Homo sapiens: one gene and its partner. The protein of the gene in region 2 purifies or fractionates together with the protein of the main gene of each other region. This does not show direct contact. Each region holds a gene or a part of one and is shown on either strand. Other genes may lie near its edges.

What was found. The genes of interacting proteins can lie anywhere in the genome.
Region 1: the proteins of EXD3 (region 2) and PSME4 purify together in Homo sapiens (affinity purification with mass spectrometry; one large-scale study listed by BioGRID and IntAct). This does not show direct contact.

The regions. Positions count from the first base shown.
Region 1 is NC_000002.12:53,960,994-53,964,493, forward strand, and holds part of PSME4 (proteasome activator complex subunit 4), read right to left. Parts: intron 1-3,500. UniProt on the Homo sapiens protein: Associated component of the proteasome that specifically recognizes acetylated histones and promotes ATP- and ubiquitin-independent degradation of core histones during spermatogenesis and DNA damage response.
Region 2 is NC_000009.12:137,343,163-137,346,662, forward strand, and holds part of EXD3 (exonuclease mut-7 homolog), read right to left. Parts: intron 1-3,500. UniProt on the Homo sapiens protein: Possesses 3'-5' exoribonuclease activity. Required for 3'-end trimming of AGO1-bound miRNAs.

The DNA of each region.
Region 1 (3,500 bases), on a different chromosome or scaffold from region 2:
CTACCCAGGAGGCTGAGGCAGGAGAATCGCTTGAACCTGGGAGGCAGAGGTTGCAGTGAGGCAAGATGGTACAATTGCACTCCAGCCTGGGTGACAGAGCAAGACTCAGTCTCAAAGAAAGAGAGAGAAGAAATGTTAAGTGTAAACCAAATACAGAAGTAGTCAACCTCAAGGTTCCAAATGGGAATATTTATAGTATGTGCTGCTTTTAACATTCCAATAGAGGTCTCAATGAATGTAGAGGTTTTCTGTTGCTGTTGTTGTTTGCTTACCGTTTTTACTACCATGCTCTCAGTTTGGTGTTCATATAGAATGAGATTTTGATCTAATTTTCTACAAAGGTTAGACAGAAACATAGATTAGGATTTTTGTATTTGAAAAGGAGGGAAGAGGCGCTAGGTGCAGTGGCTTATGCCTGTAATCCCAGCACTTTGGGAGGGCGAGGCAGGAAGATTTGAGCCCAGGAGTTTGCGACCAGCCGTGGCAACATAGTGAGACCCTGTCTCTACAAAAATAAAAATAAAATAATAAAAACCTAGCTGGGTGTGCTGATACATGCCCGTGGTCCCAGCTACTCCAGAGGCTGAGATGGGAAGATCGCTTGAGCCTGGGAGGTTGAGTTTGCAGTGAGCTGTGACAGCGCCACTGCACTCCAACCTGGGCGACAGAGCAAGACTGTCTAAAAATAAGGGGGGGAAGGGGGATGTTTGAAATGCTCATTCCCCATTGCTGTAAAGAAACAGCACTTCAACATAAATTTAATTTCCTCAGCAAGGCCATTTTTATACTTTCTGCAGAAAAGGTACACTCGCCAGCAGTTTTGCCAGGAGAGTACACCCAACAAAGGAGACAGGGTCATTTATAACCCGAAGCGTCCACCCTACTGTTGTGTCCGGTTTCCACTTGCTAGAACGGGACCTCACATTCTGTATTTGTCCCGATTGGCTAGCAACTTAGAACTTTTTAAAAGAGGCAAAGGCAGAGAACAAAGGAAGGAGGAAGTAACTTGTGGAATGCTGAGAAAGATAAAAACACCTTCAAATAAGGAAGAGGAACAGGCTATGACCTAATGCTTGCTTGGACCAGTATAAGCATGCCAGGGCAAATATTTAGGCTAAATTGTGGGAGCTAAGAACATAAAGTACATTGATTTCTTCATTATGGCTAGCAGATATTTAAGAATGTTTGCAAGGGTCTTTGAATAAATTTTGCTTGTAAGAGAAGTTACTATTTATTCCTAATTAGATGGGGAGGAAAGTCTTTGAAGAGGAACCTCTACTTTTTACAGGGGCGAAAGGGATTCTCTAAAAATAAGTCTCATTTAGCAGAAAAAAGTTAATTCCCAGGTTCCATAAGAAAAACAGTTCTTAGAAGTTATATAGTTATATGCTTATTTACAAGCTTGCCAAAAAAAAAAAAACAGTAAAAATTTGCCTCCACTTCAATTAACAACAGGTATTTCAAATACAATTTTATTTTACAACACTGCAGAAAGAACACTTGGGAAAACCATTCTTAAGTGACATTCAGATCTCAGAACATCAAACGGTACATTTCTTTTTTCTAACTGCCTTTCTTAGTGCCTCAAAGTAAGGCATTAAAACACAGTGGTCAGAATGAGATTTTCTTTTCAAATAATACATTCAGAATTCCTATTTTCTTCAATGTTTTTGATGAAGTTACCACCTGGCCTAGTCTGTCCTAAATGAACAAAAATGTGCACTGAATAAAGCACACAGCTGGGCACGGTGGCTCACGCCTGTAATCCCAGCACTTTGGGAGGCTGAGGCAGGCGGATCATGAGGTCTGGAGATCGAGACCATCCTGGCCAATAAGGTGAAACCCCATCTCTATTAAAAACAGAAAAATTCGCCAGGCATGGTGGCTGCACCTGTAGTCCCAGCTACGCAGGAGGCTGAAACAGGAAAATCACTTGAACCCAGGAAGTGGAGGCTGCAGTGAGCCGAGATCGCGCCACTGCACTCCAGCCTGGGTAACAGAGCGAGACTCAGTGTCAAAAAAAAAAAAAAAAGGACACATACCATATGCAGTGGCTCACGCATGTAATCCCAACACTTTCCCAACACTTTCAGGAGGCAAAGGTGGAGGATCACTTGAGCCCAAGAGTTCAAGGCCAGCCTGAGCAACATAGTGAGACTTTGTCTCAAGAAAAACTTTAAAAATTAGCTTGGCGTGGTGGTATATGTCTGTAGTCCAAGCTAACCAGGAGCCTGAGATGGGAGGATCGCTCGAGGCCAGGAGCTCAAGGTTAAAACAGGGGGGTATGATTGCACTCCCTATGATTCCAGCCTGGGTAAGAGACCAAGACCATCTCTTCAAAAAAAAACACACAAAAAAGAAAGAGCGCACTGAAACTTCCAGAGGGCAGAAAACTTGCGCTGATACATCCCAAACGCCAAAACCAGTGCCCAGCCCACGCATTGCACTCAAAAAATTGTGTTCAAAGAAGATTGATGTCTGCCTCTACTACACTGTATTAACCCATGACTGTACACTAACCTATGAGCCTCTTGTGTCTTCATTTTTTAAATGAAGGTAACTTAAGAGAATACTTGTTACCCCAGGATTGAGTCTAAGTCTTCAAAGGTAAAAGGCAGAAATGAAAGATGTCATAATGTGAAAATGTTCATTAATGAGCTATTTTCTTGATCTCTGTCCATGAGATTTGATTACAGTAAACCTTAGGCAAAAAAATGCAAATGAAATGGAAACTCAGAAGTAAAATCACAAATTTGGCAAAGAAGCAGAACCTTATGAGATTGATCAAAGTGATAATAGATGTTAATTTTTTTAGGTTTTATAATAGTATTGGTATTGCTTTTTTTAAAAAATTCCTTTTCCTTTGAAGATATATACTGGAAACATTCATGAATAAATAATATACTTCAAAAACAATGGGGAAAGGGGATGATGAAAAGAACATAACTGGCCATGAGTTAATTAAGTGAAGATAGGTGATGAGGTTCATTATATTGTCTTTTGAATATTTGATATTTTTCATAATAAAAAATATGTAATGAAAAGAGTTTAAATATTAGAAAACTTCAAATCAGAAACACACATATGCTCATTGGCCAGTGATGTTCAGGAAGAAATAGCCAATTAACTAGTGAAAAGAAAACGACAAGCTGTTTTCAAGAAATTACTGAGAGATCTCTGGAAAACAGTAAGGGCCTCAAATATTTTTGAAAAAAAAGTATATGTGTGACATCATCATGAAAAATCAAATGTATGCATGTGTAGAGACAGAGGGTATACAGGAACTCTATACTTTCCATTCAATTTTGCTGTGAACCTAAAATTGCTCTCAGAAATAAAATTTTTGAAAAAATCAAATATGAAATATGTCTTATTGTGCTATTACATTATACAACTTTATCAAAGAAATTCATGTTCTCCAAAATCAGTTCCTTTTTTTTCCCCTTATGGAAAATCAACTTTCTCACTACAAAGAAATTTTGGTTCCCATTTTGAATGAT
Region 2 (3,500 bases):
GACAATGAAATGTAATTTTACATGGATAGGACTGGCCAAGTGGACAAAGTTTAATAACATCAGTTGTGAATTTAATTTCTGTTGTAATTCAGCTGCTCACAGGATTAAACTCTAGGCATGGTGTTCAGCAATTTTACTTCTGCAGCTACAGGGAATAAGGGCTTCTTCTGGGCCAAGATAGAAGCTTGCAGGTCCTTCGTGTGGAGCTGAGCTCATCTTTTTCTTTCCCACCTTCTCCAGCACAGTTAGGAGCAACCAGCCCATCCCATTATATCCATTAGTTTGACTGCAGTGCTTGGAAGTAGCAAATACTTGTTATGTCAGAATCTGTGCTTCTATAGGTTCCCAATTAAGGGTATCCCATGGCAATATTTTGAATAATTTTGCAACATCTCACCATGGACTACTGTATCTTTTTTTTTTTTTTTTTTTTTTTTTTTTTTTGAGACGGAGTCTCGCTCTGTTACCCAGGCTGGAGTGCAGTGGCGTGATCTCGGCTCACTGCAAGCTCTGCCTCCCGGGTTCATGCCATTCTCCTGCCTCAGCCTCCCGAGTAGCTGGGAATACAGACGCCCGCCACCATGCCCGGCTACTTTTTTGTATTTTTAGTAGAGATGGGGTTTCCCCGTGTTAGCCAGGGTGGTCTTGATCTCCTAACCTCGTGATCCGCCTGCCTCGGCCTCCCAAAGTGCTGGGATTACAGGTATGAGCCACCGCGCCCGGCCTTTTTTTTTTTTTTTTTTTTTTGAGACAGAGTCTCACTTTGTCTCCCAGGCTGGAGTGCAGTGGCACGATCTCGGCTCACTGCAATCTCCACCCCCTGGGTTCACGCCATTCTCCTGCCTCAGTCTCCCAAGTAGCTGGGACTACAGGTGCCCGCCACCACACCTGGCTAATTTTTTATATTTTTAGTAGAGACGGGGTTTCACCGTGTTAGCCAGGATGGTCTCGATCTTCTGACCTGGTGATCCGCCCACCTCGGCCTCTGAAAGTGCTGGGATTACAGGTGTGAGCCACTGCGCCCGGCCTGTATCCTCTTTACTACTGGAAACTAGGCCCTTAGTGTCTCTAAATCTAATAATGTAGAGAACCAATTCCAGAAGTCCCAGAACCAGTGCAGACAACTCATCTGTAAGACTTTCCTCTGCAACAACTTCCGGCACCAAAATTGGTCAGTTGGGCCGATCTAGAGAAGCAAACCAGTGGGAGATAAATATTAAGAGATTTACTATCAAGAACTGGCTTCCATGCTTGCAGTGGCTGACGAGACATGTCTGGGAAGATTGTGAGTGGCGTGGAACTTCGCTGGCACGTTTCCTGTCCACTTCAGCATCTGCGGAGGCGGCCAAGGGCTGATACCCCTGCGCTTTCTGGAAGCCTCGGGTTTGCTTTCGAAGACTGTTTCTGACCTCACTCCTGCACAGATACACACTCAGCTTTTCAGGTTACACTTTTGGGAATGATCACTTATTCTTAGCATCTTTTGCCATCTGGACAGGATGAGAGTTTCCCAAATCATCAAGTCCTAGTTCCTTTCTGTTTAAGAGCGCTCCCCTCAGTCCCTCCTGCTCACATTCTATCATAAGCAGCAGGAACAGGCCAGGCTGCACCTTCCACTGTCTGGAGATCTCCTCAGCTGAATGTCCAGGTCTTCTGCTCACATTTCACCATAAGCAGCAGAAACAGGCCAGGCTGCACCTTCCACTGTCTGGAGATCTCCTCAGCTGAATATCCAGGTCTTCAGCTCACATTTCACCATAAGCAGCAGAAACAGGCCAGGCTGTACCTTCCACTGTCTGGAGATCTCCTCAGCTGAATGTCCAGGTCTTCTGCTCACATTTCACCATAAGCAGCAGAAACAGGCCAGGCTGCACCTTCCACTGTCTGGAGATCCCCTCAGCAGAACACCCAGGTTCACCTGACAAAGTCAGCTTCTCTCTGACAGCAGGACACAGCCCCATGGCGTTTCCCGCCACTACCTGGATGTGACAGGCACTTTGCCTCCCTCCACTTTGTCAGGACATTCTCCTCACATCCTCTGGGCTCTCGCCCGGAATGCTTTCTTTCCTTTTCCTTTTTAAAAAATGTTTGTAAATTTATTAGTAATGCTCCTTTTGAAAGGTATGGAAAATGAAACTCAAGGTATAATCCTTATATGAAACAATTAACTCATTTCTCCAGGAGTCTTAGTAGAAAACACATGATTTGGAAAGATCCTGCCGGGTGTGGTGGCTCACGCCTGTAATCTCAGCACTTCGGGAGGCCGAGGTGGGCAGATCACCTGAGGTCAGGAATTCGAGACCAGCCTGACCAACATGGAGAAACCCTGTCTGTACTAAAAATACAAAAATTAGTTGGGTGTAGTGGCGAGCACCTGTGATCCCAGGTACTCAGGAGGCTTAGACAGGAGAATCGCTTGAACCCGGGAGGCGGAGGTTGCAGTGGGCCCAGGTAGCACCACTGCACTCCAGCCTGGGCAACAGAGTGAGGCTTTGTCTCAAAAAAAAAAAAAAGGAAAGAAAAGAAAAGAAAAAGATAGCAAAAGCTCCATAGAAGCCAAAAGGATACCAAAGCTTCCCTTCTTCAAAAATGTTCTCTCCAGAAAATGCATGAATCTATGTCTGCCTCTGTGAGATCACTGCACCTGTGAGTAAGGTGGTCACAAATGTGAACACCTGTCTAGAACATCCTAGACCGACATAAACAGACAATCCTTGAAGCTGCAGAAAACAAATGAGGGTGAAAATAAAGCTGTACTATTTGTAGAGCAAGTCCTAAAAATACAGAATTCACTAAGAGCTTGGAACAGAAGACCTAGGAGATAAAAACCAGGGAAAAGTAATTAGAAAAATACTTCACTCCTTGATCGAGACCATCCTGGCTAACATGGTGAAATTTTTAGCCGTCTGTACTAAAAATACAAAAAATTAGCCAGGAATGGTGGCAGGAGCCTGTAGTTCCAGCTACTCGGGAGGCTGAGGCAGGAGAATGGCATGAACCTGGGAGGCGGAGCTTGCAGTGAGCCGAGATCGCACCACTGCACTCCGGGCTGGGAGACAGAGCAAGACTCCGTCTCAAAAAAAAAAAAAAAAAAAAAAAAAAAAATTCACTCCTTACTGAAGGAAAAAAAGAGGGAATAAATGTTATTAAAAAACTATATGGGTAAGATTACCCATAACTAGTATTTAAACAAATCGAGGGTTCAGGATGGATTCCGCCCTCTCCATGAAGAATAAATACCAACTAACCCCACTTCTTACACCCCTGAAGGAGAAAACTGGTCCATTTGGCTTTGATCTGACACCCTCACACTCTTGCCGTTTAGGTCGAACCATCTCGGCTCCATCTGTTTCAGCTGCATTGACCAGCATCCCACTTCTATTTCCGAACCTTCGACACTTTTAATGTCCGTATTTCCACAGATGGTCAGTTTCAGCTGCATTTACCAGCATCCCACCTCTATTTCTGAACCTTCGACACTTTTAATGTCCGTATTTCCA